Regions from separate parts of the Homo sapiens genome. Here region 1 is linked to region 2. The links come from fine-mapping of genetic effects on gene expression. A gene starts in region 2. The other region holds a variant in brackets. All regions are shown on one strand. Distances are from middle to middle.

Region 1 (5,379 bases), 160 kb before region 2:
TTAAATGTGTAAACATAAGTAAATAGATAAATAGCCTAATTCAAACACTTTTACTGCAGTCCTCCTAGAAAGAAAACAAACTTGATAACAACCCATATTTTCATAGCAGTGGTACAGCCAAATTAATCCTGGTATATTTATATAATGGAGCTCAGTATATATGTAGATCTTGAAAACATCATGTTGAGAAGCATTCAATTTGAAAAATATTATGTACAGTAAATCATTTATGTAAAATTTACTTACACAAAACAATGTTGTTTATTAATATATATTTAGTAAACATATAAAACCTGACTCACAAAATTCATGACAGCATTTCACTCTGAGGAGAGAAGAATAAAAAGAAAAAACCAGGGAAAGGCTGATAGAGAACTCAATTTATTGGTAATAGTTTACTTCTTTAAAAATCAAATGAAATATGACATATTAATATTTGCTAATTCTGGATGGGAAGTACATGGGTATTTATCTTATCCTTTTTAAAAACTTTTTTATCTTTAGTTATTCGAAATAAAAAATAAATTATAACAGTTTATAAAATTTTGAAAAAACACAAAAACAGGAGCTGAGATAGGTTAACAGGATGAGAATCACCATTATAAAAAGCTCACCAGCCTGGACAACACGGCGAAACTCAGTCTTTATGAAAAAGTACACACACACACACACACACAAAAAAAAAAAAAAAAAAAAAAAAAAAAAACCCAACCAGCCATGGTGGCATGCACCTGTAATCCCAGGTGCATCTACTCGGGAGGCTGAGGTGGGAGGATTGCTTGAGCCCAGGATGTCAAGGCTGCAGTGAGCCGAGATCGCACCTCTGCACTCCAGCCTGGGTGACAGTGTAAGACCCTGTCTCAAAATAATAATGATAACAATCACCATCATCATCATCATCCCATTATCTCAGTGGTCAGGGATGCTGCCGCGAGTAAAGTACAAAGCCCTTCACCCTTTGCTTCCTACTTAGGGGCGTGCAGCCTGAGTCCCAGAATGGATTTCCTCTCCTCCCTATCACCTAGCTGGCTCCCCCTCATCCTTCATCTCTCAGTTTATAAATCATCCTCTCTAGGAAGCCTTTCCTATTTTGTAAAAGTGAGTTATACTTCCCTCCTTTGTACTTGAAAAGTTCTCTTTGTACCTCAACCTTGCAGCATTCATCACTCTAGTATAATTTCTTGTTTACTTGTTTGTCTCCCCTCTGAGATTGCTGGCTTCTGAGGGGAGGGGCTGTGTGGGATCCAGCGTTTCAGCTCCAGCTGGCATAGTTCCTAGCCCTGAGTACACGTGTCCTACATTTTTGCTGAATTTTGTAGCTTCCTGGCCCAGAGTACTGCAGAGGGCAGCATGAGGGTACTGAATGCCTGAAGATCCCAGCGGGAAAAAAGGCAAGACAAACCATCCACTGAAAACCCTTTGCTGGAGCTGGACTTGCATTTCAGAATCAACATCTAAAACTGATTTTCATGAGAAAAAAAAAAGTAGACTCATTTCATTTTTAAAAAGCAGCTGATCTTCAGTCTTGCTTTTTTTCCTTGTTTTATCTAAACACACAAGTAGGGAAAATTGGTTCAGAAATGATTCAAAATTGGATTTTTCTTTCACAGCCACCACTCAAAATCACCCACTTAAACCATTTTTCCTCATAAAAAAAAATCCAAGGCTCAGCCGTATGGAAAACATCCTAATAGACATTTTTCTGTTGTTGACATTTTTCTGTTGTTGCCATCTTGTCCAATTTTGGAAAACGTAGAAACCACATCAAACCTACCTATTTCAGTAAGGAGGAAAAGACGAGGGTGGGACGGGTGGGTAATGCGTGTTGCATAGAGTGAAACCACACCTCCCATGAACTTTGACCTTAGCCCATCCCTACTTTTAGAATCATGACTTAATATTGATGCCCCTTGGCTTCAGAGCTGTTGGTCAGAACACGTCAAAGGCAGGAGCCCCATCCCCTCTGATTTTTGAGGAGCGCAACGTTTCTGGGACTTAACCTGAATGGTGGGTAGCACAGTTGTTCCCGAGTGTTCACTGCCCCTTCCCCCACTCGGTTTGCCCCTGCCACGTGACTTGCAGAGTCCCCAGTTGGAGGAGAGGGGGAGTGTGCTGCTCTGCGCTGCCGTATTGACAGCAGCTTGGCTAAGGGACCTGCTTTGGCCAATGAAATGAGACCGGAAGCGAAAGTGTGTGTTCCTAGCAGAAGGTGTTAAGAGGCATTGTGGCTTCCCCACAGCGATCTTGCTCTCTTTGCCCTCTATCAAGAGAATGGCATGCTCCAGACAGAGGCTGCGCTTGTAGCCTGAATTCCAGAATGAAGGAGACCAATGGTGCCAACTTGCAGCTGATAGTGTGAGCAAGGAGGGAAAACAACAACAACAAAAACCCTTTCTTTTTGAAGCCACTAAGCTTTTAGTGTTGTTGGCTACCGTGGCATAACCTACTGAAAGATGACAGATAGTGAGTTTAATAATAATAATAAACTAAACTGTGCCCCACACAGAAAGCACCAGGGTGCGGCTCAGCGGCTTCTGTGGAAGGTGGGAGGGAACTGTGCCCGGAGTTGGCCTCTTTTCTTCTGCAAGCCCACGTGTAGTGAATGTTCTGTTTCTGGTACACAAGCCGACAAAAAGCCT[T/C]TTGATTTTTTTTTTTTTCATCCCAAAGACCCAGAATTTTCTGAGTCTAAGACAAGCTGCCGTGTTCCACTGAACTTCCCAGGGAGAACTTTGCTGTTTGGGCAGAGCAGATTGTTTCCTATCTTTCCAGTCTCATTGGTTGGAAGTGCTAGAATTTCCCAAATTAAAGTGTTTTTCCCCCTGTTGATTTTGCCATTAGCGACAACAGCAGCTTCTCTAGGAAGTTGGAAAACCTTTCATAAAATATTTCCAGAATGTGGGTGTAGCCTAGAGCCTGCCTGTGGTTATCTTATTTCAGAGGAGCAAGACAAGAGTTTCACAGTTGCAGAGAAAAAAACAACAGCGTTTCATGGAAACATGGTGCTCAGCAGGGGTGTTGCTCTGAAGGAAAGAAATTCGACTAGAGAAAGTGATTAAAATGCTCTATTAACACTGGAAATGTAGAATAAACTGGATATTGCATCCATTTGGTTTTAGCGCATTCAATACATGACGTTATTTCAGCTCACAAAAGAGCATTCTGTACATAAAAATAATTCCCTTTCAATACCAAATGTACACGCTGTTGAGAATTCAACATGCCATTCTTATTTGCTATTATCATAGGTCACGACAGTGCCTCTAACTTACTATGTGACCTGGGATAAGTCATATCTCCTCTTTGTGTATCCATGTTCTCCTCTATCAAATGAACTGAGGATGTTTGGTTTAATTATTTCTGAGGTCCCTTGTCACATTTTAACAATAGAAATCTTGCTGCTTCTGTGTACATTTGGTCATTTGAATCTGCTAGTTTTGAATCATCTGCTAGTTTTCATTTGAATCTGCTAGTTTCCTTGAGCCAGTTTTACTACTTCTTTATTATTACTATTTATTGATATGCGGGCTTTGAAAGTAGGTATTTTCTCTTATTTAACAGTTGCTGTTATATTGAAACCTGATATTGATTGTCCCTAAAATGATATTTCTAATTTGTAGATTTTCTTAACAAAAATTCAGAATACAGAGTTGCAGAATCTAAAAGGGATGGGGTGGGGTGGGGAGGGGATGAGGTTTTTCTTCTGCCTGAAGATGGCAAGTGAGTTAATCCATGTTTCCAAAGAAAATAATCATAAAGCTACTCTTAAGAGAATTTCAGCATCTGTCCTGCATCATAAGGCAAGAGTGTTGATTTCCAATGTGCTCCCAGAGTCTATTCTTCATAAGCCAGGACCTAAGCAACAGAAGTTGGTGGTGTGATAGCGACCTCTCTGTTGGTGAATAAAGGGAAGGAAGTAAAATCAGTCACATCAGCATCAACATAGCTGCATGTGGCAGGGCTGAGAAAGGCTCTCTAAGCTTGCAGGTCATTTGATTCATGATCTGTCACACGGTAGATGCCTCAAGCCTTCAGAAGAAGTGTGTGCTGCACATATAGTCAATGGCCAGTGTTGAATCTCTCCTGGAAGGTAAAATGACTTGTCCCATGAGCAGCCTTCCTCCCAAATAATTCCAGAATGGGCAAGGGCATTAACTCATCTTATCCAAATGTCTCCGACTTTTCTCCACTGAGTTAACATAAACATTCTTGTTAATATTTCCAAATGAGAAAAAAAGAGATCTCAAAGATAAAATATTGATGGGATACCAAGTTTAGAGAGGCTTTGCAGATACAGACATTCTCATACACTGTTGGTATAAGCTTAAATTGGCACCTCTTTCAAGAGGGTAACTTGGTAACATAGAACACAGCTATAAACGCATAAAATAATTCCATTTCTATTAGTTATCCCACAGTTACCTCTAGAGGGTGCACAGATGTTTATGGCATAATTGTTTATAATAGCAAAATCTAGACACAACTTTTAGAACACACTGAATTTGAGTAAGTAGGGGATGAGTTAAATAAATTATGGCCCATCTATACAATGGAATACATACAGCCACTTAGAAAACAAAATGAATCTACATGTGCTAGCAGCAAAAGATGTTCCATATGTACTAATTTTAAAAGGCATATTGCAGATCTTGTTTTCTACATGTATATATGAATTCATTCACATAATTATATAAATACATGCAAAATTGTATATGCATTAGAAAATATTTAAAAAGTATACTCAAGAAATTATTAATAGCAGTTATTGCTGAAGAATGGGAAGAGATGGAGTGGAAAGGGAGAATGGTTTTACTTTTCTACAGAACAATTTCAAATTTCAATGCTCATGCATTACTTTTATATAAAAAGATTTTCAAAGTAAAAAACTAGAAACACCTAAAAAATAAGAAAGAGGAAATGATGAAATAAATTATGGCGCAATCATAAAATGTAATACTAACCAACCATTAAAAATTATTTCCTACAGTTCTACTTGCTGACAGAAAAATGTGATATATTGGTAAATTTTCAAGGCAGTTTACAAAACAAAAAGAGAAAGAGGGTGAGCCTGATAAGCACCGGAGCCCCTTAGGGGTGCATTCCAAGTCATGGTCTTTGTCACACCAGTGCCAGCACAGTGCCCAGCACACCCGTCAAGAAAGGACTGCTCATTTGATGCTCGCACATGCCTGCACCTGCACATGCTATGGGCTTACATTGCTGATGGCTGACCCTCGCAACAAGCTCATTTATCCCATTTTACAAGCAGAAGATTGAAGAAGATTAGGGAGAGTGTTTTAACTAGCGAAGCTTGAATCCGAACCTAGATTTGTCTTTTCAAACAGGAATATTTGTGAGACAATTAATCAACACATCAAAAAA
Region 2 (5,379 bases):
AGAAGTAGGTAAACAACAAAGAAGTAGGTAAACACCAAAAAGGAAGGAAGGAAGGGAACGGGTGAGGTAGGAAAGAATTTGAAAAACACTTGACTGAACTCTGCTATTGATCTTGGAAAAGTCAATCTTTGAAAGCCTCAGTTGTTTCATCTGTGAAATGGGGATGATAAAGATATGATTTCCTCAGACACTTTAATAGTAGATTTCAATATGCCATATAAACTATCCAGTATGATACAACACATGGTATGGTTTTTTACTTGATATTATTTGCCTAGAATCAGCCCGATTTATGCATTATGTACTATAAACATTCACCTTACAAAGACTGTCAACAGCTTGAGAGTGTAGCTTCATCAATTGTCTGTCTTAATTGGTCTGGAAGCATTTCCATTATTTCTAACTCAAGGAACCATTTCACAATTTTTAACAAGCTTTGTGTGCCTACAAGCTCAGAAAGCTTACTGTGTGCTCTCAGGACTAGAGTTCTATAAACCTCTATTTAAACAAGGAAGCCTCTTTTAAGTCTTATTTCAGTCTGGTGCCTTTGGTCGAGGTGGAAACTAAAATTGAAAACAGATAGATGTTTTACATTTAAATGGGTTTAACATAAATGTGCATTAACCCATTTCATGGGCGATTGCACAAATACCTTTTGCAAACTTGGTACACGTGAGCGCATATACAGTAACCATTAATGTCTTCTAGAGAAATAAGGTGCAGATCCAAAATTTTAAACAGCTAGCTCGAGTTCCTCTCACTCGAAAGAAAATGTAATGGCTTTAAGGGAATTGCTCTAATAATATCATGGCATCTGCAATGGCTGGCCAGAGCAGAGCAGAACAGTGTGTATGTCACCGCAAGTCAATTTAACAAGAAATAAGCTTCCCCCTGGAGAATCTAAACTCCCTTGCCTCCCACAAAGAAAATTGAATTTTGGAGGTCACACCTTGGGTAGGTTACCATAGAAAGAAGCTTAACATTCTTTTTGTCATATGCTCTGGGAGGTCAATGCTGTTCTTCCAACAAGTGACTACCAAAGACCCTCTTCCATTCCCCCCCACCCAATTCTCTCCCCCGATCCCATTATAACAAGTCTTTGGAGTCCTCTAGGAAACGGGATGTGATTGTGACACTTGAAAATGCCAAGGACCACACCGAAGGCAATCATGCTCAAACACCAAGTTTTGAGCCCCGCAGTGAGGAGCAGGGCAGATACTGGGGCGGGAGAGGGGACTGGAGGAGGGCAGCGGTAGAGATAGTGAGGATATGGTGGGGGTCAGAGCGAGTCAGACCGTCAGATAGTGAGCTTTAGGTTGTAACTGAACGCTTAGCCAAATGTGAATCAACGGAACTGCTGTTACCGGAGAGAAAAACAGGTCGCCAAGTCAAGCCCAGGCCAAATCCCAACTCTGTGGGTGGATGGTCCCTTCCCTGGGTTGTCGGGGTGGATGGCTGAAAGGCCTAGCGTGGTCTTGCAGCGGCGGGGAGGTACCTCCAGCACACTGCACCTCCCTTAGAGGCTCCGGGTGGCCGCAGCCGGGCTACCGCCACTGCCCCCCGCCCCGCAGCAACATGTGGGGTGCTGCCAGTCCGCCGCCCAGGAACTCCCTCCGGCTGGAGTTCCTGGTGGACGCATGTTGGGCCGTGAGAAGATGCTGAATTACTCCTGGGAAAGGTTCCTCCAGCCTTGAACTTGGCAGCTCCTGACCTTTCCATCCCACCCTCCACGCGCCAGCCCAACACACACGAGTACACACGCCCCTCTGGACCCGTCCAGGCTACTCGCGGGGCTCTCTGCCCACTAGGGGCAAAACGCCGGAGGCCGGGACCCCAGTTCCTCTGGCCCCAGGGGACTGCCCTAGCATCGGGTAGTTCCAGGGACTCAGCGCACTCCCTGCCTTGGCCAGGCCCCGCCTAAGCCGGGGCCGCTGGCACCAATCCCCTGTTCTTTTGTGCTCTCCCGGGAAGCCCGCCTCTACTCACCCGGGCTGCGCGCGGATTCCGGCCGCCAGCTGCAGCCCGCTGCCCCATCCCACGAACACTGCGGCGCCCCCAGAGTGTGCAATGCGGCGCCCCGCCAGCCCGCTGCCGGAGCCCGGGAGCTCAGGGAAGGAGCGAGGGAGCGCAGCGGGGAGAGGCGGGGGGCGGCTAGGGGCGCGCGCGCCACTCCCACTCGCGCCGGGCACTGGCCGCCGCCCGCAGCCGCGGCCGGCCCGGCCTCGAGGGCCGCGGGACCAATCAGCGCGCGCGGGGGGAGCGGAGCCCTCCGCGGGGCGCGCTCATTGGCCCGGCGCGCGCGGCCCAACTCCGGGAGAATCGGCCTGAGCGCCAAGTCTGCAAACTCCGGCCAGCGGGAGCCGACCGCCCGGCGCAGGTGGGGCACCCGGGCGCCGCGCTCCCGCCCGCAGGGTGAGCGGAACTGGAGAGATTTGGGACCTTCCCGGGAAGCCTGTTCCCAGTGAGCGTTGGAAGCGAGCAGTGTTTGCTCAGGGTGCACCGATACCTTCCTGTGCGCGACCCCCTGGCGCCTCTCCCTAGCCGCCAGCCTCAGCCGGGCCAGCAGCTGCGTGCGTGGCTGCAGGCCCGGCAGTGTGAAATGACCCTGGCCAAATCTCACTCCCCGCCATCCCCTGGGCCCCGCGAAATCCGCCGGACCGCAGAGCTCAAGAGCAAGTGAAGCTCCGAACCCAGGGAAGGCGGAGACCACTTGACGTTTGCAGTAAAAGACCTAAGCTGCGGGGCGGAGCATGGAGGCGGTGGGAAGAGCCAGGAAGGCAGGTCTTAGGAAGTGGGAATCCGGTTATGGGTTTGGTGCAAAAAAGTCCAGGGCATAATACTGCCACCCTCTGCCCAACCCTTCCTCCAGTTAAAGCCCCTGCAGCCCTCTTGGGACGTATTGGTTTTTCTCTTCCTTGTTGTAAATCGTGTTTGACCCCCCTGGACGGTTCGATCTAGAGCCTTAGAGTGGAAGTGGGTCATAGTCCTACTCTCCCCTGAGCAGCGCGGGGGGCCGGCGGGGAGCCGGGGTGACCGGGGAAGGTCCCCAGGAAGGTCTGGAAGGACTCCACGGATATGCCCGGAAACTCGGAACCAGCCTCCCCACCTCCCCCCGAACTTGGCCTGCAAGGCTACCTTCGTAAGGGCGGCCCGCCATGTGGCTATTTGTCGATCTTTGAGACCCCTCCACCTTCTCCTTGGATTTTCTACCCCTGGAGCATTTTTTCAGGCCTCTCCTGAATCACCCTGCCTTCCCAATAATCTATCCATCCCAACATAAAAACATTCTTACTCTTTTTTAAATTAAACTTCCTTCCCCAGTCCCTCTATTTGGAAGGGCCTAGGATAACCTATTTTTGATCGACAGCTGCTAGACCTCAGAAAGTTTTTCTCTTAGTGTATGTGCACAGGCTTGCCCAAGCTCAGGGTTCAAGTAGGCAAAAAATAATTAGCGCCCCCTCAAGGTGGAGATCGCTGCCGCGCTGTCTTCCTGCAGGGCTCAGCAGGGTGAATGAATTGAATATGAATTAATCAACCTGAACTTGGAAATGTCTCTCCGTGTCTAGGCAGGTTACCTCTGCGGGTTAGCATCTACTAATGAGGGCATGTCCCGGGTGTCACTGCTGACACTCATTTAGTTTCCAGTTGGCAGTTCCGGTCCATGTACTTATTCACTTTATTTAAAAAAAATCGGTGCATAGTTTAGTGAAAATATTCATATTTGGGTTCAAAGTGAAGTTCAACGTATTAATGCAGTTTATGAGAGCCGAGTTCCTGGTAGAGATGGAACCCTTAGGATCTCTTTTCAGAAATATATTTTCAAAGAAGGCTGGAAAGATATGCATATGAAATGTCTGCAGTGGTTATCTCTGCGTGTTGGGATAATGGATGGTTTTCTTGTTCTTTATACTTTACGGTATTTTCTAAAGAACATTAATATTAATTTAAAAATTTTTTTAAAATGTTGACTACCAACATACAACACTCCTCAGGCATCAGAAGAGCGAAAATGTTAAATCTTCCTTCTGCTTTTCCCTTCACATCTTGTCAATCGCCCAGTCCTGTGTTTCTGTCTCCTAGGATGACTTCTAGATCCATCCCTCCCAGCATCTCTATTTCACTGCCAGACCTCATCATGCCTTACCAGCGCTTCAGCAACAGGCTTTCACTGCTCTGCTCTCCAGTCGACCACACGCTGCCCTCTCTATTTCAGAATCACTAATGTAATCATGTCACTTTCAAGCTTAAAATTCTTCAGTTCCAACCCCACTGTGAGGAAGTTCAAATGGAGCCTGGTTGGCAAGGCGTTTCCTTCCCAGTCCGTTCCCAGCTTTCCACGTTGGTCTCATCTTCTGTCCTCACAGTTCCGCAGGCAGGATGGTTCTGCTCCACCTACAACTGCCTGTCCGTGGACCTTCACACACCCATGTCTAAGATTTCATAGTGCTAGAATGCTGTGCTTCTCTTCCTTCTCAACTCTCTCCTGCCCCAACAGCAAGTTCCTATCTTTGCTTCAAGATTCACTTCGAATACCACCTTTTTAAAAATCAAGTCTTCGAAACTGCCCGGGGCAGAATTAAGCAACGCCTTCTTTCTGTACATCAGAAGCAAGCTTTTTTTTTTTTTTTTTTTTTTTTTTTTGACGGAGTCTCACTCTGCTGCCCAGGCTGGAGCAAAGTGACGCGATGAAGAAAACATACATTGTATTTACACTCCTGGAGTGCACGAAGAGAGAGACGCACTTTATTTATTTATTTATTTTAAGCCCTCTCCTTCTCACCCCTGCCCAACATGGCTGAGTGCCATCCTCTGTTTCACCCCTGCTGAGTCTGCCAGCTCACATTTACCATAGGTGGTCTCACCCTGCACCTTCCCAACCTGCCCAGCTCTCACTACAGATCTGTTTATTGATTATTTTTTGTTGTTATTGTTTCATGTTTTTGTTTTTGAGACAGTCTCACTCTGTCACCCAGGCTGGAGTGCAGTGGCACAATCTTGGCTCACTGCAACCTCTGCCTTCCAGGTTCCAGTGATTCTCATGTCTCAGCCTCCTGAGTTGTTGATGCCCAGCTAATTTTTTTATTTTTAGTAGAGATGGGGTTTCACCATTTTGGCCAGGCTGGTCTTGAACTCCTGACCTCAGGTAATCTGCCCATCCTGGCCTCCCAAAGTGCTAGGATTACAGGCATGAGCCACCATGCCCAGCCTTGTTTATTGATTATTTTAAAAGCAGCCCTTTCTGATTTTTTAAATTAATGTATATTTTTATTTCAATAGCTCTGGAAGTACGAGTGGTTTTTGGCATGGGTGAATTGTATAGTGGTGAAGTCAGATTGTAGTGCACCCATCACCTGAGTAGGAGAGAAAGACTTTAGATCA

Alleles and levels. Positions count from the first base shown, and alleles are read on the strand shown. Sizes are in standard deviations (SD) of each study's normalised expression.
In carriers of allele C in region 1, the expression in tibial nerve of the gene that starts at base 2,122 in region 2 tends to be lower than with T alone (moderate effect, 0.45 SD a copy in GTEx).

Evidence for each region. PIP is the estimated chance that this variant, and not a neighbour inherited with it, causes the effect.
Region 1: its variant is the best candidate, but not a certain one, in a credible set for the expression of LYPD6 in tibial nerve (GTEx, PIP 0.83).

Annotation. Positions count from the first base shown.
Region 1 is chr2:149,486,437-149,491,815 of GRCh38, reverse strand. No RefSeq gene overlaps it. Among named protein-coding and RNA genes, the nearest start is that of MMADHC-DT, 98 kb to the left of the region's middle. The variant T/C (reference allele first, on the strand shown) is at 2,640.
Region 2 is chr2:149,327,330-149,332,708 of GRCh38, reverse strand. LYPD6 (LY6/PLAUR domain containing 6) reads right to left here and starts at 2,122. Exons shown (of 5, transcript NM_194317.5): 1 at 1,987-2,122. MIR9899 (microRNA 9899) reads left to right here and starts at 2,336; the gene lies at 2,336-2,431. RefSeq lists a silencer at 2,036-2,505.